7 linked regions of the Homo sapiens genome follow. The protein of the gene in region 4 purifies or fractionates together with the protein of the main gene of each other region. This does not show direct contact. Each region holds a gene or a part of one and is shown on either strand. Other genes may lie near its edges. The genes, in order: EPS15L1, SASS6, MPHOSPH9, BFSP1, CCDC92, TRIM9 and SPDL1.

Evidence for each region.
Region 1: the proteins of BFSP1 (region 4) and EPS15L1 purify together in Homo sapiens (affinity purification with mass spectrometry; one large-scale study listed by BioGRID and IntAct). This does not show direct contact.
Region 2: the proteins of BFSP1 (region 4) and SASS6 purify together in Homo sapiens (affinity purification with mass spectrometry; one large-scale study listed by BioGRID and IntAct). This does not show direct contact.
Region 3: the proteins of BFSP1 (region 4) and MPHOSPH9 purify together in Homo sapiens (affinity purification with mass spectrometry; one large-scale study listed by BioGRID and IntAct). This does not show direct contact.
Region 5: the proteins of BFSP1 (region 4) and CCDC92 purify together in Homo sapiens (affinity purification with mass spectrometry; one large-scale study listed by BioGRID and IntAct). This does not show direct contact.
Region 6: the proteins of BFSP1 (region 4) and TRIM9 purify together in Homo sapiens (affinity purification with mass spectrometry; one large-scale study listed by BioGRID and IntAct). This does not show direct contact.
Region 7: the proteins of BFSP1 (region 4) and SPDL1 purify together in Homo sapiens (affinity purification with mass spectrometry; one large-scale study listed by BioGRID and IntAct). This does not show direct contact.

Annotation. Positions count from the first base shown.
Region 1 is NC_000019.10:16,398,971-16,402,470, reverse strand, and holds part of EPS15L1 (epidermal growth factor receptor substrate 15-like 1), read left to right. Parts: coding exon 1-150; coding exon of another isoform or gene 151-165; exon of another isoform or gene 166-1,882; intron 1,883-3,500.
Region 2 is NC_000001.11:100,101,931-100,105,430, forward strand, and holds part of SASS6 (spindle assembly abnormal protein 6 homolog), read right to left. Parts: intron 1,154-3,500; coding exon 1,025-1,153; intron 1-1,024.
Region 3 is NC_000012.12:123,205,642-123,209,141, forward strand, and holds part of MPHOSPH9 (M-phase phosphoprotein 9), read right to left. Parts: intron 1-3,500. UniProt on the Homo sapiens protein: Negatively regulates cilia formation by recruiting the CP110-CEP97 complex (a negative regulator of ciliogenesis) at the distal end of the mother centriole in ciliary cells.
Region 4 is NC_000020.11:17,528,580-17,532,780, forward strand, and holds the start of BFSP1 (filensin), read right to left. Parts: upstream 2,801-4,201; 5' UTR 2,751-2,800; coding exon 2,374-2,750; intron 1-2,373. UniProt on the Homo sapiens protein: Required for the correct formation of lens intermediate filaments as part of a complex composed of BFSP1, BFSP2 and CRYAA. Involved in altering the calcium regulation of MIP water permeability.
Region 5 is NC_000012.12:123,941,832-123,945,331, forward strand, and holds part of CCDC92 (coiled-coil domain-containing protein 92), read right to left. Parts: intron 2,910-3,500; exon of another isoform or gene 2,838-2,909; intron 2,534-2,837; 5' UTR 2,475-2,533; coding exon 2,441-2,474; intron 1,663-2,440; coding exon 1,516-1,662; intron 955-1,515; coding exon 913-954; intron 1-912.
Region 6 is NC_000014.9:51,088,606-51,092,105, forward strand, and holds part of TRIM9 (E3 ubiquitin-protein ligase TRIM9), read right to left. Parts: intron 1-3,500. UniProt on the Homo sapiens protein: E3 ubiquitin-protein ligase which ubiquitinates itself in cooperation with an E2 enzyme UBE2D2/UBC4 and serves as a targeting signal for proteasomal degradation.
Region 7 is NC_000005.10:169,586,773-169,590,272, reverse strand, and holds part of SPDL1 (protein Spindly), read right to left. Parts: intron 3,075-3,500; exon of another isoform or gene 2,901-3,074; intron 1,901-2,900; exon of another isoform or gene 1,880-1,900; 5' UTR 1,857-1,879; coding exon 1,698-1,856; intron 1,675-1,697; exon of another isoform or gene 1-1,674. UniProt on the Homo sapiens protein: Required for the localization of dynein and dynactin to the mitotic kintochore.

The sequences.
Region 1 (3,500 bases), on a different chromosome or scaffold from region 4:
TCCCAGCTGCATGAAAGCCGCCAGGAGGCCCACAGGAGCCTGGAGCAGTATGACCAGGTGCTCGATGGAGCCCATGGTGCCAGCCTGACCGACCTGGCCAACCTGAGCGAAGGCGTCTCCCTGGCAGAGAGGGGCAGTTTTGGAGCCATGGTAAAGGTTGAATAAACGTATTACAGTATGGGGCTCTGGTCCCCTGGTGTGACAGCAGAACATCCCACCCGCCAGATCTGTTCATGGCCAACGTTGGTTCCAGCCAAGTGCAGGCGGCTGTCTGTTGTTTTTGCTGCCACTTTGCGCGTTCACACCAGGCCTTGCAGCCTGGCACAGGTGGCCATGCTGAATCCTGGCTTCCAGAACAAAGTCCAAGATAGGCCTGGATCCTTTCAGAACCTGTTTTGAATGCCCTCCATCTCTGCGGAAGTATTTACATTGGGCCAACCACCCAAGTTCAGAGGGCTTCTCAAACTTAACCAAAATTGGATCAGTTTCTGCTCATTGTGGAAACCCCACATTCTACTAATCAGGGGGCAGGGGACATCTGAGGGGCATGTGTCTATGTGTATGTGTGTTTCCACAAGGAACACCTTGAAAAGCAAATGTGTTGCTAAAGATGAGGAAGTAATGGCAAGCAGCGCCCCAGGGTGTTGCTCTTTCAAGTAAGAATTGGCCTCTCCTGAAATTTTGGTTATGTTTAAAAACCTCTGCACTTTACTCTGACCTCATGACCCTGGAGTTGTGATCAGGCCTGGGGCAGGGGACTGTCGGCCCCTTACATTTTTGAGAGCTCTTGAGCCCCTGATACCAAGACAGGTGTGACCTTTTCCTTAGGTGGTCACATCCCCCCTGTTCACACCAGAGTCTGCCCCTGCAGCCTCGAACCTGGGGACATGTAGTTTCCCATTTCGTCTTGGTGCTGTTCCGGGAGCGGATGGGCCGGGCCGCGCATGTCTGGATGTTTCCTTGGTGCTCTGCTGCCTCCAGCAGCTCTCTCCGTGCTGCCACCCTCTCTCCCAGGGCTCCTCCCTGGAGCCCTTCTGCTCCTGGGCCTCTGTACGTCATGGATTCCTCTTCCTCCCTGGAATAAGAGTGAGCGCTCGTGCTCTCTAAACACCACACTTGCCTCTTTATGTTCAATGCTTGATGTGTTTCTTTTCTCAGCAGCCAAGTCCTCAGTCCCAAGGATTTATGGGGAAGCACACGCGTCCCCTGGGCTGCTGGGAAGGCACTGCTGGCGAGCTCATCTGTCTCTTGTGTCTGGCCCCCGCTGGGTGCACCGCCTCCCTCTTTCCTCCCATACTCTCTTTTCTCGTGGACTCGTAATGAGGTGGTTTCCATAGCCGCCCCCGGGCCCGTCATCATCAGCTTTATCGTCTAAATTTAAACGATGAGCATTCATCCTTCATGAGTTACGAGAAGCCAGAACTCCTCGCTTTGCTCCCTGGCTGTTCTTGGCGTGTGTGTTTCCGTCTCACAACCCGGCTCCTACTTTCCCCATCTGGCATTGTCCCCTGGCACCGCTTTTGGCTTGTCCTGCTCAGTCTTCGTTCAGGGAACAGCTTCCTCTTAAATGTCCCTTTTGCAGGTTTTTAGAAACCGGTTTTCTTGGATAAAAGTTGGCAGTGAAGTGGCAGTTTGCAAGTGGCCAGTGATTCCCCCAACTCCAAAGACAGATTTTTACCTTTCTGGTTATTTTTGTTCATCTTTTGGGCAGGGCAAAGGTTACCTGAGACACAATTACTTTGGGAATGTAGATTAAGATACGTTACATGGAAACTTGCAACTGGCATCCGAAAGAAAAACTGTTTTTATCCTGTTGTACAAATACAGTTTTTAAAGCATTTTTCTGGCTTGTTTCTATTTCTTAATAAATACTTGGAAGAGAGATTTTTGTTTACTCCTGAACACTTCAAGACTGCTTCAGAGCCGAGAGAGAGGTGTCTTAGTTCTCCCTTGTGGGTCGAAGTTGGGGGTTTTAGGTCCCTGAGAATAGTGTATCCACAGTGGTACATCTGGAACTTCCTATGTTTGGACAGTTCTACTCAGGTTACTAAATTCCATGTGAAGCTCACGCAGTGTGACTTTATCTCAAAAGTCAGGGGTTTTTTTTTTTTTTTGTTTTTGTTTTTTTTTTTTTGAGACGGAGTCTCGCTCTGTCTCCCAGACTGGAGTGCAGTGGCACAATCTCAGCTCACTGCAACCTCTGCCTCCCGGGTCCAAGTGATTCTCCTGCCTCAGCCTCCCGAGTAGCAGAGATTACAGGCACGTGCCACCATGCCCAGCTAATTTTTGTATTTTTAGTAGAGACGAGGTTTCACAGTGTTGCCCAGGCTGGTCTTGAACTCCTGACCTCAGGCAATCTGCCCGCCTCGACCTCCCCAAATGCTGGGATTACAGGCGTGAGCCACCTCACCCGCCAAAGTCAGGGTTCTTAAAGCCATATTTATTTCTTGTCTATCATCTGATTATGAGAATATTGACCTCTTGCTCACCATCCAATCAACTTATGGAGAGAAGCTAATAAATCATCCCAGACTTAGGCCTTACTGAGGACAGATTAAGAAAGGTTGATTGATCTGTCACATCCAGACCCAGTGGCATGCTGGAGCCAGTTTTTATTGACTTTCCAGAACCGATTATTAAATAGGAACTGGCCGGGCACAATGGCTCACACCTGTAATCCCAGTCCTTTGGGAGGCTGAGGTGGGAGGATTGCTTGAGGCCAGCTGCGTGCCACTGCACTCCAGCCTGGGTGACACAGCGAGACTCAATCTCTAAAAAAAAAAAAAAAACCCCAAAAAGCAAAAAACAGGAACTTGTGAGCTAGTTGCTTGGAAACTTGAAATCAACCATGATGAGACTGTTTACACCACAGGAATTGGCAGAAGCTCTAAACCAGGGCTTTTTTCTGAGAGAACTGATTCCCAGCACACCCCTGCTGCCCAGCACTCCTCTAAAGGGCGGGAATGTCACAGAAGCTTCTTCAGCCCCCTTTCAGAGTTGCCGTGTGTATTTCCTAAGAAGGGTACAACTTCACACTGGTTGCTGAACTTGTTCAAGATATTACATCTCTGCCAAGGGCCGTGTCATTCATCCTGGCCCTTGTCTGCTGTACTCGTGTCCCCCAAGTTGGCAGATGGGTCTGTTCTCCTTAGTAGGTGGTCTGCAAGGGGTAGAGTTGATGGTATCTTTGTAACAGGGAAATCTCGTTTCCCACTCTGATTCTGTGCAATGGAATCAAAACCACTATTAGTTACCCTGACCTCCTGAATCCTGCTGGGGTCTCAGGCTTCCCCTTGGAAGGGGAAGGAGTGATTGTGGCTTCAGGCCAATGACTCCTGAGAAAGTGATTGCAGGCCTGACTGTCAGTGCAGGGGGCTTGCAGCCAGCATTCCCAGAACCTCAGTCTCTTCTCTGCCATTGTTCACTGTTACTTGGCAGTCTTCCAAGTGACGACTGAAAACACTGAAAAAAAAAAACCTTATAAATAAATGCCAATTAAA
Region 2 (3,500 bases), on a different chromosome or scaffold from region 4:
ATACCAGTTTCAAAGTCCTCAATTTTATCTTTTATACAATATTTTTTCATAAATGTTTATTTGTCTCATTATTTAAGAAAAAATAAACCTGGATCTGAAGTTAGCAATGAAAATAAAAGCAGTGACTGGTCTGGGTGGATTAAACTATTGTGAAAACAAAATTATAATACATAAAAAATACATAAATCTAAGATAATAATAAAAATGAGGAAAAAGAAGTAGGTAGAAGAAAGCCTTAACAAATATATCAAGGGTTGGGGGGATTGCTAGTCATATCTTATCTGAGATAATGCTGTCAGAACTAAATTTTAGAATTTGATTTAAGCCTGCCCTACCAGACCTTTAAATTCTAGCAATGGACTCCAAATCATAGCTCAGACTCCAACAGTATGAAGTCAGAAATCCTAGCCAGGCCTGAGAGCGTAGGAGACACAAGTAGAAGAATGAATAAAAACGGAAAGGCTGGCCGGGCGTGGTGGCTCAGGCCTGCAATCCCAGCACCTTGGGAGGCCAAGGCAGGCGGATCACTTGAGGCCAGGAGTTCGAGACCAGCCTGGCCAACATGGCGAAACCTCACCTCTACTAAAATTGCAAAAAAATTAGCTGGGTGTAGTGGCACATGCCTGTAATCCCAGCTACTCAGGAGGCTGAGGCACGAGAATCACTGAACCCAGGAGGCAGAGGCTGCAGTGAGCTGAGATTACACCACTGCACTCCAGCCTGGACAACCGAGCAAGACTGTCTCAAAAAAAAAAAAAAAAAAAGGAGAGGTTGAGTAGAAATAAGTGAGGTTTAAACAGACTGATGTCAAGATTTTAGAAATTACAGTGACTCAAGAAATATATAGTGCATATATTTCCTGTACACATAGATACTAGATATTCAGTAATGTATTTATCTAATACACTACCTACTACTTAACAACTGACCAAAGAATAAATGAACTTTTAAAAGATGTGAAATGTTTGTATGCTAATAGGTTGCTATATTTTTTCCCAGAACAAGTATTAGTTAATTTGGCTACCTTTGTTCCTGAACCAGGGTGGCTGGTATTTTTGGCAGATATCGAATGAGGGAAGGTATTCTGGAATGCAAATGCAGAGGAGACAGGATAACCAATCCCACAGGTTGGGTAAGTCAGTCTACCATCAACCTAAAAATAAAAACATAAAGATGATTAAAGATGATAAATTAATTCTAAATAGTATTTGTTGATCAGGTGGCATTAGCATCTGTTATAATAACTAATAATTAAGAGAGCACTATCTCAGACGCCAGTCTTGTTTATCATGCCACACAACTCTGCTTTATTATCTACCATGGGGCTAGGATAACTTTGAACTAGAGGGCTTTTCAAGGTAGGTGTGCAAGCTTGGATAAAACAAACTACTGGGCCTGCCTTTGTACTAAGTTAAAGCCAAGCTTCTGAACCAACTTGTTTCACTCTAAGTCTCCTAAAAAAGGGGGGAATGGGGGAGTCTGGAGATCAATAGGCCAATCAGAGATAAAATAAAACTAATTTTCTGTCAGACTGCATAAAAACAAGATCAGTGTTCTTAAATGGACTAATTGAGACAGTAATTGGTTTTGCCACTAATTTTCAATATACTGGCACCACACATTAACCAACGTTATGAAAAAGTTTATTTTTATACTGAGACCAGTTGTAACAGAAATCTTGAGAAGCATTTGTGCACACTAATGGATGCACACAAAAAAACACCTTTCACACAGCTATCATCAGTCATTCAAATTTTAAGCCGGACAAAAAATCTTTTTTAAGTTTGTAATTCAGCCCCAGGCACTTCTTTCTGCACCCTTCTCCAATTTAACAGCAATCTTTCCCCTTCTTTAGACATCCCGTACTCTGACTTACCAGAGTAGATTAGGTTAAAAATTCAATTAGGAATCTGAATTTTAAACCTTCTGCCAATGTCCTGTAGCCAAGGACCACCAGGAACCCATGTATAGATATACGAGCTAGATTTATTGCTCCTTGCAACAAGGGAAACTGCACACCATGAACAAACATGGGTATCTCCAAAAGTGGGTATTAAAAGGGACTTATTTATTGGATTTAGGCACATGTTAGGTGATTTAAGAAAAAGTTTAAGTGGTGCTTTGCTGTGGATTGGAAGCTACTGGGAAATGGGGATAAATGTATGACTGGGTATCTGAATAAATCCTATCTAATAAAGCAAGAGGAATGTATTAAGGTCAAAGCTGTAATTAAAGCAGCAGCAGCCATTCATGTTAGCCAGGATATGAGGATGCTTATGGGCCATATCTGTGATTTAGCAATGTTCATATTTTTGTCTGTATTCAGGCATGATTATGAAACAGTCTTGTTTTTGTATTGACAGAGTCACAGAGTAACCTTGCCTGATGTTAATATTCCATGAAATTGTTGTGTTCAACAGGAGAGCCCCAGGCCTATGTGCGGATGCTAGGTAAGCTCCTAGCAGCACCTAGGCCTAACTATCAGATAGTACCAAACCACCTCTGAATGTAAGAAGCTGCTTTTCCTATTCTGCCTTTTTTCTGTTTGAGATAGAGTCTCACTCTGTTGCCCAGGCTGGAGTACAGTGGTGCGATCTTGGCTCATGGCAACCTCCACCTCCTGGGTTCAAGCAGTTCCCCTGCCTCAGTCTCCCGAGTAGCTGGGATTATAGGCATGCACCATTGCACCCAACTGAATTATGTATTTTTAGTAGAGACAGGGTTTCACCACGTTGCCCAGGCTGACCTCTTGAACTCCTGACCTCAGGTGATCCACCCACCTCAGCCTCCCACCCAAAGTGCTGGGATTACAGGCATGAGCCATCGTGCCCAGCCTCCCTTTTTTCTCAGGTTAAAAAAAAAAAAAAAAAAGCAGGGCTGGGCACAGTGGCTCACAGCTATAATCCCGGCACTTTGAGAGGCCGAGGTGGGAGGATTGCCTGAGCCCAGGAGGTCAAGGCTGCCATGAGCCATGATCCCACCACTGCACTCCAGCCTCGGCAACAGAGTGAGGTCTTGTCTCAAAAGAGAAAAAAATCTGGTCCTGGGAGCTAGAAAGTTTATATCTCATAACCAGTTTCTTGTAGAATCTAAAGGTGACAAGCCTGCTAATAGGACTTTTTTCTTTTTTACTTTCTTTTCTTTTTCTGATAGAATTCAGTTTAGGCTTAAGCCTAAACCCTGAATTCTCTCTTCTTCAAGTCTCCTAAATGTTTTACGTTATGTGTTTTCAAGTTTTTCAGTATATTTGGTATTACTTTAGTTAGCATTGAAAGATTTCAATATCCAGTCAAGACTTATAAAGAAGTGTGCTCTTGGCTGGGTGCGGTGGCTCACGCCTGTAATCCCAACACTTTGGGAGGCCGAGGCAGGCAGATCATGAGGTCAGGAGATCAAGACCATCCTGGCTAACAGGGTGAAATCTGTTTCTACTAAAAATACAAAAAATTAGCTGGGCGTGGTGGTGGGCGCCTATAGTCCCAGCTACTTGGGAAGCTGAG
Region 3 (3,500 bases), on a different chromosome or scaffold from region 4:
GTGAAGAGTAGCATTACTCCAGCTATGGCCACAGCCTGGTGGTCTGGGGGAATAGTTGGGGTTATTCTACTCAAAGCTCATGGGAATAGAAAAGTACCACTTTTCACCACTTTTATGTTCTTGTCATGTTAACATCTCTAAAGTAGGGATGCCTCTTGTAATTAATGGCATTTTATAATTGCTATTGCTTTGGGCCAAGTTGTGGTTGTGACAGACTGTCATTCCCTGCTCATGAGCTCAAAATTGGCCAAATAGGTATCAGCAGCTTGGAAGACAAACCTACACACTACAATGAAGCTCCTGAGGACCAATATTTAAGAGAACGGTGAATCAGACACGTTTAGCAACATACTCCACATGGGAGTCCAAAGCGGGCTAGTCCTACATGCTACTAAGACAGGTAAAAAGCAGAAAGGCCTTTCTATTCTTTTTAAAGAAATGCAGAATCGCTGATGCTCTTGGTGGGCTAGAGGAAGATAACGTGGGAAAACACAGAAACTAACACCAAGGTGAAGAGAGAGAAATGGCCAGGCATAGTGGTTCACATTTGTAATCCCAGCACTTTGGGAGGCTGAGGCAGGAGGATTGCTTGAGTCCAGGAGTTTGAGAGACCAGCTTGGGCAACATAGAGAGACCTTGCCTCTACTAAAAACAAACAAACAAAAAAAAAATGAGCCAGGTGTGGTTGCACATGACTGTAGTCCCAGCTACTCAGGAGGCTGAGGCAAGAGGATCGCCTGAGCCCAGGAGGTTGAGTCTGCAGTTATCTATGATGAAGCTGCTATACTCCAGCCTCGGCAACAGAGTGAGACCGTGAAGAAAGAAAGAGAGAAAGAGAGGAAGAGGAGAAGAGAAGAGAGGAGAGGAGAGGAGAAGAGAAGAGAAGAGATGAGAAGAGAAGAGTATAACACTCTGAGAAGGAAAGAATTTTAGCCACTTTTATTTCACTTATGTTTTCCTTTTTAAAGTATGCATAAGAGTTATATAATAAGCCAGGCACAGTGGCTCACACCTGTAATCCCAGCACTTTGGGAGGCTGAGGCAGGTGGGTCACAAGGTCAGGAGATCGAGACCATCTTGGCCAACATGGTGGAACCTCGTCTCTACTAAAAACACAAAAAAATTAGCTGGGTATGGTAGTGCATGCCTGTAGTCCTAGCTACTCAGGAGGCTGAAGCAGGAGAATCGCTTGAACCCAGGAGATGGAGGTTGCAGTGAGCCGAGATCACACCACTGCACTCCAGCCTGGCAACAGAGCAAGACTCCGTCTCAAAAAAAAAGTTATATAATAGGCCAGGCACAGTGACTCACAGCTGTAATCCCAGCACTGTGGGAGACCAAAGCAGGGGAATCACTTGAGCCCAGGAGTTTGAGACCAGCCTAGGCAACACAGCAAAAATCCTCTCTCTAATAAAAAAAAAAAAAAGTTACTGATACATAATAAAACCTATGTTTAAGTCTAAAGACTCTTTCCATAAGAATAAAATATAAATTCTAAAGTGGTTAAAAAAAAAAAAAAAAAAAAGCATTGTATCAGTCTAATTTATAAATTTTTCTTGGTAGAACATGAAATGGGAAACCTTAAAGTTGACAATACCGTAGAGTCAACAAAATGCAGTATCCACTTACTGATGTTCAAGATCAGATAACACTGTGAGCCCTGCAATTGCAAAGCCTACTAAGCCTGCCTTGCCCCCTACAATCTTACCCCCCTCATACTTCATTTCTCTGTGTTGACCTGTGTCTTTTTGTTCCTTTCATGAAGTACGGAACATTGGTTTCCGTCACTGAGACTCTGATGCTTACAAGTACATTGCCCCATCTGTCTGTCTGTATATGTCATTCATTTTTATGTCTCTTGGTTACTTTAATAGTATCTCTCCTTTTCCCCAGGTACTCTTTCATTACCTGATCAAAATACAGAAATGAAGGCCGGGTGCACTAGCTCATGCCTGTAATTCCAGCACTTTGGGAGGCCAAGGCGGGCGGATCACCTGAGGTCAGGAGTTCGAGAGCAGCCTGGCCAACATGGTGAAACCCTGTCTCTACACAAATACAAAACATAGCTGGGCATGATGGCAGGTGCCTGTAATCCCAGCTACTTGGAAGGTTGAGGTGGGAGAATCATTTGAACCTGGGAGGCAGAGATTGCAGTGAGCTGAGATCACGCCACTGCACTCCAGCCTGGGCAACAGAGCGAGACTCCGCCTCAAAGAAAAAAAAAAAAGAAAAAAAAAAATACAGAGGTGAAATAGGTACATTGATGTACATTTACTGAATAGTTTTATTTCTTTGCTCTTAAATTTAAAAAAAATGGGCCAGCGCAGTGGCTCACGCCTGTATTCCCAGCACTCTGGGAGGCTGATGTGGGTGGATCACCAGCCTGGCCAACATCACGAAACTCCCTCTCTACTAAAAATACAAAAATTAGCCAGGCATGGTGGCGCATGCCCATAATCCCAGCTACTCAGGAGGCTGAGGCAGGAGAATCACTTGAACCTGGAACCACTGCACTCCAGCCTAAGTGACAGACTGAGACTCCGTCTCAAAAAAAAAAAAAAAAAAAAATTTTTTTTTTAAATGTACCTTTCTTACTCAAAGAAAATCCAGCAAATTGGCCGGGCGCAGTGGTGCATGCCTGTAATTCCAGCACTTGGGAGGCCAAGGCAAGCAAATCACGAGGTCAAGAGATCGAGACCATCCTGACCAACATGGTGAAACCCCGTCTCTACTAAAAATACAAAAATTAGCTGGGCGTGGTGGCATGTGCCTGTAGACCCAGCTACTCGGGAGGCTGAGGCAGGATAATCACTTGAACCCGGGAGGCAGAGGTTGCAGTGAGCCAAGATCGCACCACTGCACTCCAACCTGGCGACAGAGTGAAACTGTCTCAAAAAAAAAAAAAAAAAGAATACAGCAAATTAAGTTGCTCATAACTATGGTGGAAATGGATCGCATAACAAATGAAAATGAATGGAGGTGTAACAAATGAAAAATCAACACCAATTCTGGGAAAAGGGGAAGAAATTAATAGCTGAGGACCTACTACATATGAAATAGTAGGCACAATCCATTTAATTTCACAAAACACTAACCAGCATTTTTTTTTTCCCTTTTTGAGACAGGGTCTCACTCTGTCACACAGGCTAGAGTGCAATGGTGTGACCTCCCGGGCTCAAGTGATCCTCTCACCTCAGCCTCCCAAAGTACAAGGATTACAGGTGTAAACTATGATGCCCAGCTCAAGCCAGCCAGAATTTTTTAAAAGTGGAATTTTTAATTCCACTTTTTTCTGTTGTTGTTTTTGCTGAGGCGGAGTCTCGCTCTGTCACCCAGGCTGGAGTGCAGTGGCACCATCTTGGCTCACTGCAATCTCCACCTCCTGGGTTCAAGTGATTCTCCTGCCTCAGCCACCTGAGCAGCTGGGATTACAAGTGCATGCCACCACGCCCAGCTAATTTTTGGGTTTTTAGTAGAGATGGGGTTTTACCATGTTGGCC
Region 4 (4,201 bases):
TATCTCAAGATACAGTGTTCCCGAAAGAGCATAGGCCCAGGGTGAGAAAACCCAGGTTCAAGTTCTGCCACCCACAGGCCCTCTCCCAGGCTCAGTTTCCCCATGAAGTTCTGTAACAAGTGGATTTTCAGGTCCCTTCTACCAGCTCCAAGTCTGTTTCTACAGATTAAACCCCAAGACAAAAGAGCTGACAGGAATCGAATCAATAAATGTGATTTGATAAATGTGTTCAGAACACAACAATGAATAACCTGCCCAAGATTCAGATTGAGAAACTGGAACTCAAACATAGAGCAGGTTTACAGAAATCCTCTGACTACCCTATGCCAAGGGTTCCCAAATCTGGCTGGAATGACCAGTGGCACTCATTAAAAATGTTTAAGCTTCTGGGCCCCTCTTGAGGTCCAGGGTAGAGCCTAGACATCTGTATTTTAAAATTCATTTATGTAATTTTAAATGGATGAATATCTTACATGGTTAAATAAGTGTGTGTGTGTGTGTGTGTGTGTGTGAGACAGAGTCTCACTCTGTCACCCAGGCTGGAGTGCAGTGGCGCAATCTCAGCTCACTGCAGCCTCCGCCTCCCAGATTCAAGTGATTCTCCTGCCTCAGCCTCCCGGGTAGCTGGAACTACAGGCGTGTGCCACTACACCCAGCTAATTTTTGTATTTTTTAAAGTAGACACAGGGTTTCACAATGTTGGCCAGGCTGGTCTGGAACTCCTGACCTCAAGTGTTCTGCCTGCCTTGGCCTCCCAAAGTGCTGGGATTACAGGCGTGAGCCACTGCACCCAGCCCATAGTTAAATAATTTTTTTAAAGATATAAAAAGATGTTCTGTTAAAAGTCTCCTTCCCACCTCTGTCTCCCAATTGCTCAGTTCCTACTCACTTATCTCCCTCAGGTAGCCAGTGTCATTGGGGCATGTGCCTGTGTGTGTGTCTGTGTGTGTGTGTCTTTGTGTGTGTCCTGAAATTCTTTTTATGCAAGCAAAAAAAAAACTCTACTCTCCTCCCCTTTTAAAAGACTACATGACAATAACATACTTTTTTCCACTGCATAGTATTCCATTACATGGAGGAAGCACCTGTCTCCTTTTAATGGGCATTTATTTGGTTCCAGGCTTATTGCAGATCCTGCTGCAGTGAGTATCTTTGCAGGCATGCCATTGCACACCTGCTGGAGTGTACCTGTTGCAGTGAGTATCTTTGCAGCCATGCCATTGCACACCTGCTGGAGTGTACCTGCTGCAGTATTGGTGGAGGCATGCCATTGCACACCTGCTGGAGTGCATCCTATAATACATTCCTCAAAGTAGCCTTCTGAGTCAAAGAGCACACACATTTATAACTTGAAAAAATGTTGACAAATTGCATCTTTTTTTTAACAGCTCCTATGTGATTTTAACACATTACTCAATCTGTGGGAGGGGAGACCATGCCCTGGACCAGTGCTGCTTAGTCAACATTTAACTTTTTAAACTGAAAATCACCTGGGGAGCTTGTTAAAATGCAGATTCTGATTCTGGAGTTCTAGGGTGGGCCCAAGAATCTGTATTTCTAGCAAACTCCCGGGTGATGCCAATACTGCTGGTCCATGGACCGCACTTTGAGTATCAAGACACTAGAGGACACATACTGAGCATAATTCCCAGGTGTCAGCTGCTATGCCATGAAGGCAATTAGACTTAGCATGCCCAGGACCTAAATTCCAGTCCCGGGACAGCAGTTCGCCAGCTGAGGGGCCTTGCTGGCCAAATCCCTACATTTTCTGAGCCTCAGTCGCCTCATCTGTAAAACAGGTGCAGTAAAGATAAGTATGTAAGGATTAAATAACATCGGTACATCTCAAAACCAATGTGCTGAGCAAAAGAAGCCAGACAATAGAGTACATCCCGTAAGATTCTATTTTTGTGGAACTGTAGAATAGGCAAAGTCAATCTATGGTGATAGAAATCAGAATGGGTGCCTCCGGTCTGGGGCAAAGGGGACTGACTGGGAAAGGGGAGGAGGGAACTTTCAGGGGTAGTGGAAATATCTCACTTGTTTTCGTGGTAACACGGGTATATACATTTGTCAAAACTCACTGAACTATGCACTTCAAATCTGTGCATTTTATAACATGTAAGTTATACCAAAATTTAAAAATAGATGAAAAGTAAATGATACAACTTCGTGTAAACTGTGACGTGCCATCAAAACAGAAGCCAGTCTTAGCTTAAGGAAATGTGCCACCTGCGTGCAGGGATGAGGTCATCGATCGACAGGGGACCAGAGACGGCGCTCCACCCCTGCATGGTAGCAGCGTGCTCCCAGCCCCGCGCCGCCGGGACGGCCCACGCCCTGCCTCGGTTTCCCCCGATGGCCGCCGCTTACTTGCTTCGGAACTCGTCGAGCGCGCGCTGCGCCTCGGTGCCCTGGCGCTCCAGCCGGGCGCGCTCGGCCTCCAGGTCCCGGACGCGCTGGCGGTTGCTCTCGACTTGGCGGGCGAGGGCGTCCTCGGGCCCGGCCAGCTCGCCCAGGCGCTGGAAGGCATCCAGCTGCCTCCGGAGCCCGGCATGGCGCTGCTCGAGGGCGCGGGCCCGCTGGACGTGGGCGGCCACGCGCTCGCCGAGCCCCTGCAGCGCCGCCAGGCTCGTTGCCCCAGCCCAGCCCTCGTCGGCCGGGCGCTCGGGCTCGGCGGCGCGCGAAGCCTCGTCGGCGTGCTCGTACTGCTCCTTGCGGGTCTGGAAGACGTAGCTGCGCCGGTACATGGCTGCTCTGGCGCGGGCGCGCGGGCGGCGCCGAGCCGGCTCTCCAGGAGGCCCCCGGCGCAGCCCGCAGCCCGCTAAATAAACACCGGAGGCCCCCGGCGCGCTGCTGGGACGTTCCAGAGCCGATCAGCAGTTGGGCGCCACGCTGGGCCCGGGCGCGGGAGAAGAAAAGAGCAGCGGCCCGCTTTGTGCGGCGGATTAGCGGCCCATACAGCTCCGGGGTTGGAAGGTTACGCTGGGCAATGAGGTTTTTGTTCCGTGATTGTTCAGGCCTGTTGCTTTTGATTGAATGGAGGGTCAGGGGACACGGGAGCCATGACGCTCTTTTCACTGGTTCCACTGGGGACTGTGAAGGAATCCCCAAGCGAACTCTTTAAACTTGGACTAGCTCAAGAGCCCAGGGCTTGTCACTTTGTCTCCTCTTGCATTCAAACTCAATTGTAGAACTCTTTAACAATGCCATTTTTTTTTTCTGATTACTTAAGCAATTCTTTTTTTTTTCTTTTGGTCTTTTTTATTTCCAATTGCTCGGTTATGCATGCAATTCTTTTTCATAATCATAACATGACGTTTAGGACCCTTCTGTATAGCAGAGGTTCTTAACCATGGATGCAAAATAAAATGGCATGTCTCCATTAAGTAGTGAGGTGTGGCGCAAGTAATTTCTTAGTAATACCCGTGCATAAAAGCCTACAATAACTTAGGAGACATGCACGGTTATGTTTTTATAATTCACCCATGCTCTGATGGAGTTTGACATGCTTTCTTGAATGGAAAAAACAAATAGAGCCCCACCCATGGGCCTGTAATAGGTGGTTCACGCCTGTAATCCTAGCACTTTGGGAGGCCGAGGCGGGCGGATCACCTGAGTTCGAGGCCAGCCTGGCCAACATGGTGAAACTCCGTCTCTACTAAAAATACCAAAATTAGCCAGGCGTGGTGGCGTGTGCCAGTAATCCCAGCTACCTGGGAGGCTGAGGCAGGAGAATCGCTGGAACCTGGGAGGCGGAGGCTGCAGTGAGCCGAGATCGCCCCACTGCACTCCAGCCTGGGTAACAGAGTGAGACTCCGTCTCAAAAAAAAAAAAAAAAAGAAAAAGAAAAAAAGATTGCTTTTTTCTTTTTCTTTTTTTAACATAAAATGTAATACAAAAAAATTTTAATAAAAAATGAGATGGGGTCTTGCTATGTTGCCCAGGCAGGACTCAAACTCCTGGGCTCAAGTGATCCGCCATTAATTGGCCAACCCTCAATTCGAGAATAATAAAGGATTTTGTGCCATTATGTTCCATTTTAATTTTTATTATGGAACTAATAGTTGGATTTTAAGGACAAGCTTTTAAAATATATATATATAATTAATAGCTAGACTTTGACAAATTTAAAAGTAAATTTAAGAAAAGAAATTAATACCACTTGATGAGAATGTTTCTGAATGTAAATATTTTGTCA
Region 5 (3,500 bases), on a different chromosome or scaffold from region 4:
TCAAGCTTAGAATGTGAGGTCCCATTCCAGTCAATGGAAACTGGACACAGTCATAGGGCAATTGCATCAGGTTATGAAGATTATAAATGTCCTCGTCTCCTTTGTTTGAGTGTGCTCTCGTGGTAAGACTGCTGGCGAGTTGCACCCTTTCTGCAGAAAGTAAACTAGCCTTGCTGAGCCATCCATTGCCTTCCCGACGTGATAAACCCGTTTCCAACAGGTGTCTCTGCACAAACATGGATTCAGCACTTTCCAAACACCCACCCTGTTTTAGGGAGCAGGCTCTTTGCAGCAGGCACAGAGGGCCCTGGGAAGGCCTGGGTTTCTGTCTCTTCTCTGGCGGCCAGCAGGCAGCTGCCCTTTGGGGTTTCCTGAGGTCCTGGAGGATTCTGGTTTGGGGAGGGTTCTGGGGCTGTAGTCCAGAGAAAGCCCCAGATCCTCAGGGAGCTGTCTAGTAATGTGACCACTCGCCCGCCAGCATTTAGCAAGCTGCTGCTCTGTGCCAGGCCCATGCTAGGCGGCAGCGACACGGAGGAGCGGGGGCGGTTCTGCCCAATGCTGCTGCTGCTGTTACTCCTCCTTTTGGGTTTAACTCACGTCTATTTTTATGTCCTGATTACACAAGGAACACATGTTCATTGTAGGAAAATCAGAAAAACATATAATAGGCATTCCAAATATATGTGTCATTCAAAAGAAAACAAAATCACTCATCCCCCTGCCCACTAATAACCACTTGCAACACGGAGGGATCCAAACATCCTTCTCATCTTCTCTTAGAGAGCTCAGGCCACACGCATAACTCTTCCCAGCAAGAGCATTTTCTCCTAAGTGTGTGACTAGTGAAAACGGCACCAACACGTACCACAAAGGGAAACCTACTGTCATTTACTTCTGGGGAGGAGTTCTTACCTGTCTGTTCCGAACTTTTGACTGTCAGCTCATATGTTAAATCTAAAAGGGAAATGTTACACATTAATTCTTTTACTGTACATTTCAAAATCTTCATCAGCTTTGAAAATGCAAAACCGATTCCCACGATTAGCCAGCGAGTCCTACCCAGACAGAGCAGGGTTTGGCAGCAGGAGAGGTGAGCATGAGAGCAGCAGAAAACATCTGCGGCCACTGTGCTCCCTGGGGTCAGAGGGCACCCTCTGTTCCCCCAAACTCCCTTCCCCATTCCCCCACAGCATATCCCAACCATCCAAACCAAACAATCCAGCAGCTGGCTCTATGTATCACACAGGCTATATCTTGGTTATCAGTTCCAAAACACATTGGAGATTCTAACCATTGTATTTTAATCTCTTAAGTCCTCAGTATGCCAAGAAAAGGCTTTGCAGCTTTATGCTTAGTGCATCTTGATTATGCAATGAGGATGATATAAGGCATTCAGATGGACTCCTGCAACGATGATGGGAGCTGGGGGCAGGGCAGGCCTAGCACATTCTGACGCTGGGCTCTGCCGTGCCCCATAGCCGCCCCCCGCCTGCCCGGGCCTGCTCCCCGATGTACCTGTGCAGTGCTGCTGCAGCCGCCTGATCTCGGAGTGCAGCCCCTTGAGCGTGCTGGCATGCTCCCGCTGAAGGAACAGGAGGTTCTTCTGTGCGCTGTGCAGCTGGTTCTCCAGGTTTGTGGCTGCCATGCTGACATCCAGAGGACCTGTGGGTAACACAGACCCTGGCTGCGGTGCCTGAAGAGGGTCCCAGGGCTGCCTGCCCTCCTTGGCTCTGGGTGCAGAGGGGTGTGCGCCTCCCAGGAGAGAGCAGAAGGAAACCACGGCTCCTGAAGGGCAGGGTGTGGGGGCACCAGGGCTACATTCCCATCACTGCAGGGAGGCCCCAGGCCAGGGACGGCAGCCTCTGCTTCCCGAACGCCTTGGGGTGTGCCCTAGCACCTAGCACGATGCCTGGCACATGAATGAGTGAGGCCCACTCCAGAGTACAAAGTCATTTCCCTTTACTCATGAGGAAACAGATCAAGAGAGGCAGATTCGCGAGCCTGGGGTCACACAGCCAGTGAGGTATGGAGCAGGGATTCTAATCCAGGGACCCTTGGTTCCAAATCCTGTCCTCTCCACGCACCACCTCACCCCAACAGACTGTGACTGACCAAATCACGCCCAAAAGATTTCCCTGACCAGGAAGCACTGACAGCTTCCTCATGGGAAAAGCTGGCACCTGGGAAATGGGCCAAACATTTCCTCTAAATGGCATCTGGAGCCAGCCAAAGTAGGAGGGAGAGATGGGCTGAATTCCAGAGGGAAGCCCCCTGCACTTCACAGCACTGAGAGGAGCCACAGATCCTTCTTGGGAAGGTCTGAGAACGTATCTCATGGGGCCAGGGGGTGGTGCAGGTGTCTGGAGTCTGTCCCCAATGCTTGGCCCCTCCCAGCCCCAGCTTCCAGCATCTGATGCTCACTCAGGGCCCCAGACTCTACCTTCATCGTAACTCGAGAAATGTGGTGAAGTCATGGGTCTTTCTGGAAAAGCTACCAGAGTAATTCAAGACGCTTGTACAGCACTGAAAAATACTGAGGATGAAATGTGAGTTATTTGCTTATAAATTATTATTGTAAATACAGAACCTCAGAATGCATTTTCCCTAATTTGCTATTCCAGAGAACCCTCCGTAAAGGAGGTACAACTTCTCAATGGCTCCCAGGACGCAGCCCATTTGTAGGATGCCACAGTGGAACCGTTTTGGAGACACTGACACACCCAGGCTGTCACTGCTTCAGACGACACCAATTGCTCATCAATTATCTGTACGACCAGTGACATGCATGCACACTAGCTCTGGAGCTAGGACGAGTTCATAACGAACTTCAGACATACACTTTCATCACACGAAAACACTTCCTGGGCGCTGCTCCGGTGGAAAGCCACAGACTCCACTCCGAGGGCAACCTGAGAACGCAGAGAAGGAAATAAAACACGACGGAGCTCACGAAGGGGAATGAACAATGATACATCCTAAAAAGGACCAAGAAAAAGAGAAACAAGAGGCCCTTTCAGTTGGGGACAAAAACTGGCAGGAGAGGGCAGTGGCCCCAGGACACGGCAAGTACAGTCTCGGGGGGCACCTCACCACGGGCAGTGATTGGGCAGAGCTGATCAGAAGCCTTGGAATTGGTCATCTCTCTGAACTAGCAATTTATTTTTAGAAATCTACCAAAGGGAAATTATTACTTTTGTGTGAAAAGAGGTAGCTGTGAGAATGGTCACTACAGTGCAGTTTGCAGTTGGAAAAGACTAGAAACAAACTCAAAACCCGACAATAGGGAGTGGGTTAAATAACTTAAGGCGACCATTTCTAGGCATGTTTCTATAAAACAAAGCATAGCTCTCCCTGGCCTTTGACTGCCGTCGCACTGGGCTGCAGATGATGGCAGAGTTGAGTTTCCATCAAGCAGGGCTTTCCTCAGTGGAGCCGTGAGCAGCATTCCGGCAGGAGTGAGAAAGGATGTTTCTGTCCCCGAAACCGTCTCTGTGCTGTAA
Region 6 (3,500 bases), on a different chromosome or scaffold from region 4:
AAAAGTGTCATCACTACATACATGGAGTAATTTCGAGTTGGTAAAAAAAAAAAAAAATCTCTTCGGCCTCTTTGTGAAAAACCTCACAATAAAAATAACTGAAGAAAATAACCAAAAGGCTAATAAAAGCTACCTAGTGGTGAATGGGTAGATAACATTGAATATGATATGATTTCTGCTTCATTGAATCAAAAACCGCCCCTCTATTTGTATTTATGGCATCAGAATGCAGCCTTCTAAACACAATATTCTAAAGACAATATCTAGGATGAATAAAAATTAGAATCTTAAAGTATTTACATGTGTTAATTCATATGCTTTTGTAAGTCAGGACTTCTTGGTTGCAAGTGGCAGGAAACCAACACAAACAAGCTAAAGCAAAGAAAAAAAAAAAAAGACTCTCAGTGGACACTGACATGAATAAGTAAGAAATTAGATGCCATTATAATTCACTGAGATTCGAAGATTTGTTACTGGAGCATAGTCCAACCTGACTGATGCTGAGAGTGAACTTAGTTTCTAGCTTTATAGTTCCATTCTCCTTGTGAGTTGATTTTATTTCACTTCCCATGAAATCCTCTGAGATCACCTAAGTGGGTTTCTGATCCTTTCAATGAATAATCCCTGATAAAACTGATAAACAAATGATATTTATTTATAACTATTTGATTCTTAAACATTTATCTTGTTATAGGTTCTTCTATCCTTCTGTAGGCCAAAGTTAAGTTGTATGTGTATATACACTTTGAAAAGTCCACCAACTTGTTTAGGTGAGGAAAGTGCAATTTATCATACTGATGGTAAGGACAAATGTTCCCTGTACATTATTTTCATTACACAAGAACAGATGGCTGTGATAATTGTCTCTTACTTTATGCAAACTGTGATTTGACCTGAAACTCCAATTAATAGCATCTTTTCATGGCATATACAGGAGAAACAATTTCTGCTACTTCAAACTGGTAACAATATCTTTATTGGAGAATCTGAAAAAAACGGAGCCTTATCAGCTATTTCAGCTTACTTAGAGAAAAACAGAATACTTTTGTTTAATATATAAATCTTTGTATAGTATTCTTATTTCTTGAGCTTAATTCAACTGAATATTCTCTCTGGACCCATGAGGAAGAGTCTCACTCTTTTAGGCCACCTTTCAGAGCAGCTTTGGACTGTACCCTATGCTCTGAAAAGGATCCAGAAAAGTACCCCAAGTTGGGGGATGAGATTTTTACGCAGTAATTGTTGACTGGTGAGACATTGACTCTGTTTGACATGAATGTTTATGGTTGTGTTGAACTGAAATTAGTAAATTATAAACATTTAATTTACCTTATCAAAATCCTTTCACAATTGTAATTTTAACTCCCTTATATCTTTGTAGGTGGGAAGTACAGACAGGTGATGATACTTGCAAAAAGTTTCCTGCAAGTAAGTGGCAGCATTGGTTCTATAACCTGGATCTCCTGTTATCTAGTTCTTTCCATTATGCCTGGGTACAAAGAGGAATAACTGTCTTCTCTGTAACATTTTCCTTAATATCTGTAAAAATGTTTACATGGCACACAGAATGTTCTAATTGTACTAGAAGTAAATCAAAAGAAATGTAAAAACATGAACATATGCTGCCTGTTACATTTACCACAGGAATATATAGACTATATTGTGTTTACTGCTGACATATAGTTAACTGAATATCATTTTAGTGGCATTATATAACACATTTTGCTACATAAATATTTAATGAGATGCCACCATAAAGCTAAGCAGATATTTTTCTCCAGGATATTTTAGAATTGAAGGCATATTAACTGACAGTTTATTTTAAAATATTGTTTAAATTGCAAATTTTCATTTATAAAAACAAAGGTAAGAGAAAAATAACATTTGAGACAAGATTAAGAATGAATAGTGTTTAGAATAGAAAGGAAAAGAAAATCTTTGCTCAGTAGCATGAACACAGAATAATTGTTACAAATATGTTACTGATTCAGTGACTTCATTTTTTTATTTTGAGACAGTCTTGCATCGTCACCCAGGCTACAGTGCAGTGGTGAGATCCTGGCTCACTGCAACCTCTGCCTCCCAGGTTCAAGCAATTCTCCTGCCTCAGCCACCCAAGTAGCTGGAACTACAAGGCATGCACCACCATGCCCAGCTAATTTTTGATTTTTCAGTAGAAATGGAGTCTCAACATGCTGGTCAGGCTGGTCTTAAATCCTGGCCGCAAGAGATCTGACCGCCTCGGCCTCCCAAAGTGCTGGGATTACAGGCATAATCCAGTGCACCCAGCCCTGATTCAGTGACTATTGAAACCCCAGGAATTCAAGGATAATATCAGGATTTAGGAATGTGAACTGCTTAAAATCACAAAGTAATAGTAGTGGTTTCTATTGCCCATTTTAAAGTATCTACAAAATCACTTTTTTGGTGTTATAATTCTTTTAACAAGTACGTTGAATAAAGGAATATAGTTAAGTACTGGCACTAAATAAAAACTGCTACCAAATATTTGACTTATAAGACCATTATTATTATTATTATTATTCATGTGTTATTATTTTTCATGGAGTTTTGAAGACCAAAAATATCTGAAAAACATTTTAATCTGGCCAGTTGAAAACTAGTGAATTTCAACCAGATGTTTTTAATACCACTTTAAAAATAAACTGCAGCCATTTTATTATATCTTGAGTGTGTAAGATGATGATTTATGCCTGTGGGAAATACTTATCTGCAGGACTTGCTTTATCAGTAGAAATGACTAATATGATAGAATATGAATGACAACTTTTCAGGTCTAGTAATAACCTGTGTTGATAACTAACTGCCCAATTTTGGAAACCTAGTTAGTATAGTTCTTTGCTGTCCTATTTTTGCAGGGCATAGAAATTCTGGCCCATGGGCTTTTGTGGAGATAGAAGTACCATTAACTAAAACATAAACTATATGAGAAAACTGGCTGCTAACACATTAACTTCCTTATTAAGTAAATAAGGTGGGGGAGTAATGTTTGTTGTTCATCTAACAGATGACAAGTGAATGTTAAAATCTGTCATCCTTCTGTCTTATTTTTTTTCTTGGCAGTTTAGTAATCCTCATATTGACTGAACAAAAATTATGTGTCCTTACTGTTTTGGAAAAAATGTGCAAAAGATCAGAGAATAAATGGTCTTCTAGCCTACTTATGTCATGTTTCAAGGGTTTTAACATTCTTTTGTGGCAGGTAGATATCTAAATCTCAACCCAGGCAGCACCAGTGTCTGTCTACTCATAATTTCTATTGCCAATAAAACAAATGATTTAACATTTCAAATTGACATGGGGCTTGACAGAGATTTAAAGGTTTCTTTTGGTCTTAATAGATCAAGGATAGGCTTGTCATAAAAAAAATAATAATGTTGTGGTTTACCCATCCTAATTACCTTGTGGCTCTAAATTCTTTTTCCTGACAGAGTGATTAATTTTTTAGTTCCAAGGATACTTTGTAGGGCAATTCAACA
Region 7 (3,500 bases), on a different chromosome or scaffold from region 4:
GGTTTACAACAGTACTATGTAGAAACACAAAGGTTGCCATCACTAGTTATTTTTACCTGCTACAGATATTTTTTACCTGCCATATTTACAATGTTGAGATTCAAGTTTAAATATGTTACTGAGCATTTGCTAAATTACCCAGATTTATTCATTCATTCTTTTAAGAAATAATCGTGTGGCAGGCATTCAGGATAGTGAACAAGGCATACAAAATTCCCTCTCTCATGGAGTTTATAATCTAGAGATAATTAGCAATGCAGATAATTAAGAGTGGAATCAGGGCCGGGCACAACGGCTCATGCCTGTAATCCCAGCACTTCGGCAGGCAGATTACGTGAAGCCAGGAGTTCAAGACCAGCCTGGTCAACATGGTGAAACCCCATCTCTACTAAAAACACAAAAATTAGCCGGATGTGGTGGCACACATCTGTAACCCCGAGCTACTCGGAAGGCTGAGGTAGGAGAATCTCTTGAACCCAGGAGGTGGAGGATGCAGTGAGCCAAGATTGCGCCACTGCACTCCAGCCTGGGCGACAGAGTGAGACCCTGTTTCAAAAAAAAAAAAGAAAAAAGAAAAAAAAAGTGAATCAGGGCAACTTTACATTACATAGTAAGGGCTGACCTCTCCGCTGAAGTGACATTTAAATGAAAGCTGAAATCTGAGGACTCAACCCAAGAGCAGTGAGGGGTAAACAACTCAAAAAAAAAAAAAAGGCAATAGCTGGTGTAAAGCCCATAAGGGAGGACCAGTATAGTCAAGAACAAGGCAAAGCAGTTTGAGGTGAGGTCAGAAGCTTGGCAGGGGTCAGGTCACATAGGGATCTACAAACCCAAGGATGGAGCTCAGATTTTGTTGTAAATAAAATCAGAAGCTGTTGTATGGTTTTTAGCAGGGCTGTGGCATGACCTTTGGTGTGTTATTCCACGACCACTTAGACGCTGAGTGAAGAATGAATGGCATGAATGGCAACAATGGAAGCAGGCAACCCGGCCAGAAGGCTACAATACTTGTCTAGGAGTGATGATGGTGATCTGGACTACAGTGCCAGTAGCAAAGATACATGCTTTGTAGTCTAGTTCTTAGAACTTATTAATGAGTGAAATGTGAGAAATAAAGGGAAGATATTGACTAAAAGTTCTAGATTTTTGGTATATAAAGAAACCAAAAATATACCAAAAATCTTTGGTATATAAAGATTTTTGGTGTTCAAGAAACTGAATGCTATTATATTTACTAAATAAGCTAAAAAAAATCGTAAAAGAATATTTGGTTAACGGACAGGGAATCCACTCTTCTGTCTGTGTTAAGTTTGAGAAGTCTATTAGTGGGCAGTTGAACACAAACCTAGATTTCATGGGGGAACTAAGGGCTTGGTGTAGTGTCATGGGGCACTTAGATGTTTAGAGGTCTAAAACAAGTGAGGTCTTCTAGGAAGTGTGCAGACAAAGCAAAATCTGGTAGTAAATGTGGCAAAGAGAGTAATGATAACTTGATCTTTCAAACTCTGAATACACTAGGGTGGAAAGAATAACAGGAATTCATTTAGTTCATTCTTTTTTAACAGGGACGGGGCAGGGCGGGAACTAGATCTAAAATCTTCAGAAAAGAATAAACTACTACTACTATTAATTGCTAAACAGGACAAATCTTCAATAGCTAAGCACACTCTTGCAGACAGAGGAGTCCAGAGTCCTACCTCAGTCATGGTCATCATTTCATTACGACATTTATCCAATTGATTCTGTAATTCATTTTGACTCTCTACTAGTTGTAAACCATACTGTGCAGCTTTTAGTCGCTCTTCTTCAGCCTCTTTGAGCCTGCATCGAAGATTTGTGATTATATCTGCCTCCATGTTCTTTTCTTTTTTTTAGCCAACTGTAAATAGAGGAAATAAAACTACTTAAGCTTATACAAAAAACTCCATGCAATAATATCAATAACAGAAGAAACATATCTACTCAATACTACTGTCGTATAAAAACATTAAAATTTTCTTCCTGACTAATAAGTAGTCAAATTTGCATTCTTGTTCCAAGAGCAAGAACTGTTCTGACAATTCTGTTACTGATTTGGGATCAAAAATTAAAGAGTGGAATAGAATACATTTAATTTTGCTTCTAAACAGTTCACCATCAGAAAACTGTTCAGTTGTTGTATGCTAAGCTTCCAATATGTTAAGGTAAGTTTGGTCTCATAATTGGACCACTATCCATATAATCAAAATTAAGGGAATAACAAAAAAGTAATCAAGAAACCTCATAGTAGCAGGTATGGTGGCTCATGCTTGTAATCCCAGCAACTGGGGAGGATTACTTGAGGCCAGGAATTCGAGACCAGCCTGAACAACATAGCAAGACTCCATCTCAATCAATCAATCAATAGAAATAAGGTGGGGATGGTGGCAAGCCCCCGTAGTCCTAGCTACTTGGGAGGCTAAGGAAGGAAAATTGATGGAGTTAGAGGCTTCAGTGAGTTATGATCATGGCACTGACAGAGCAAGACACTGTCTTGAGAAATAATAATGATAATAACAATAATACCACCAGAAAAGGAAGGTCTGGGTACTATAAACACATAAAATATAAAAAGGCAGCTGTGAATAAGGCTCATAAGGTAAAGTAAGAAATATCATGTCTGTAATTTTTCACAACAGTGTTAACTTCCTGAATATATTAAATCTGCTTTCCTGGAAAGAGATTCACTAGTATTTTTCTAGTTATTCATAAAAGTATGCAAAAATAGAAACCATATCCATAAGAATTAAAGGATGTTGCTTTCATTCTAGATTTATAAACAAAGACTTAAACATTATATATAGAAACATTCCACTTTAATCAACCTTACTAATTATCCTTTACTATTTGGTCCCAGCCTCCTAAGCGAGACTCAAACTCACCTTTGCCTTCAAAGGGCACCAGGTCATTGCAAGATGTTCCCCCATGTCTCAAGTCAATGTAGTCATTCACTGAACGAGTATTTCTTGAATGCCTTATATACTAGGTTCCATTCTGGGCAGTTCAGATTCATTAGGGAACAAAATGGACGAAAAAAAAGCTCCTCCCTCATGAAACTTACATTCCAGGAGGGGAAGATAAACAGTAAGTAACAGAATATTAATAAATTAGAAAGGGGAGATGAGAAAAAATAGAACAGAATAAGAATCTGGGAAGAAGGGACAGGTGATGTAACCAGGAGGCAGAAGATGAGAGAATCAGCCAGGCAGCTATTTAGAAGAAGAATGTTCCAGCAAGAGGGGAATCCTTAAGGCAGGAAGAAGCCCAGGGAGTGAAATTTGGCTAAGAGATAGTAGAGAGTGGGCAAATCAGGCCATTATAAGGACTTTGGCTCCTACTTTGGGTGACATGGGAAGTCATTCCAAAGTCTGGAGTAGAGGATCTGATATAATTTAAAAGAATCATTTTGGCTGCTATGTTGACTAGTTTAGAAGGGGAACAAGGCTGGAAGCAGAGACCATGTGAAATGGCTCAGACTAGGG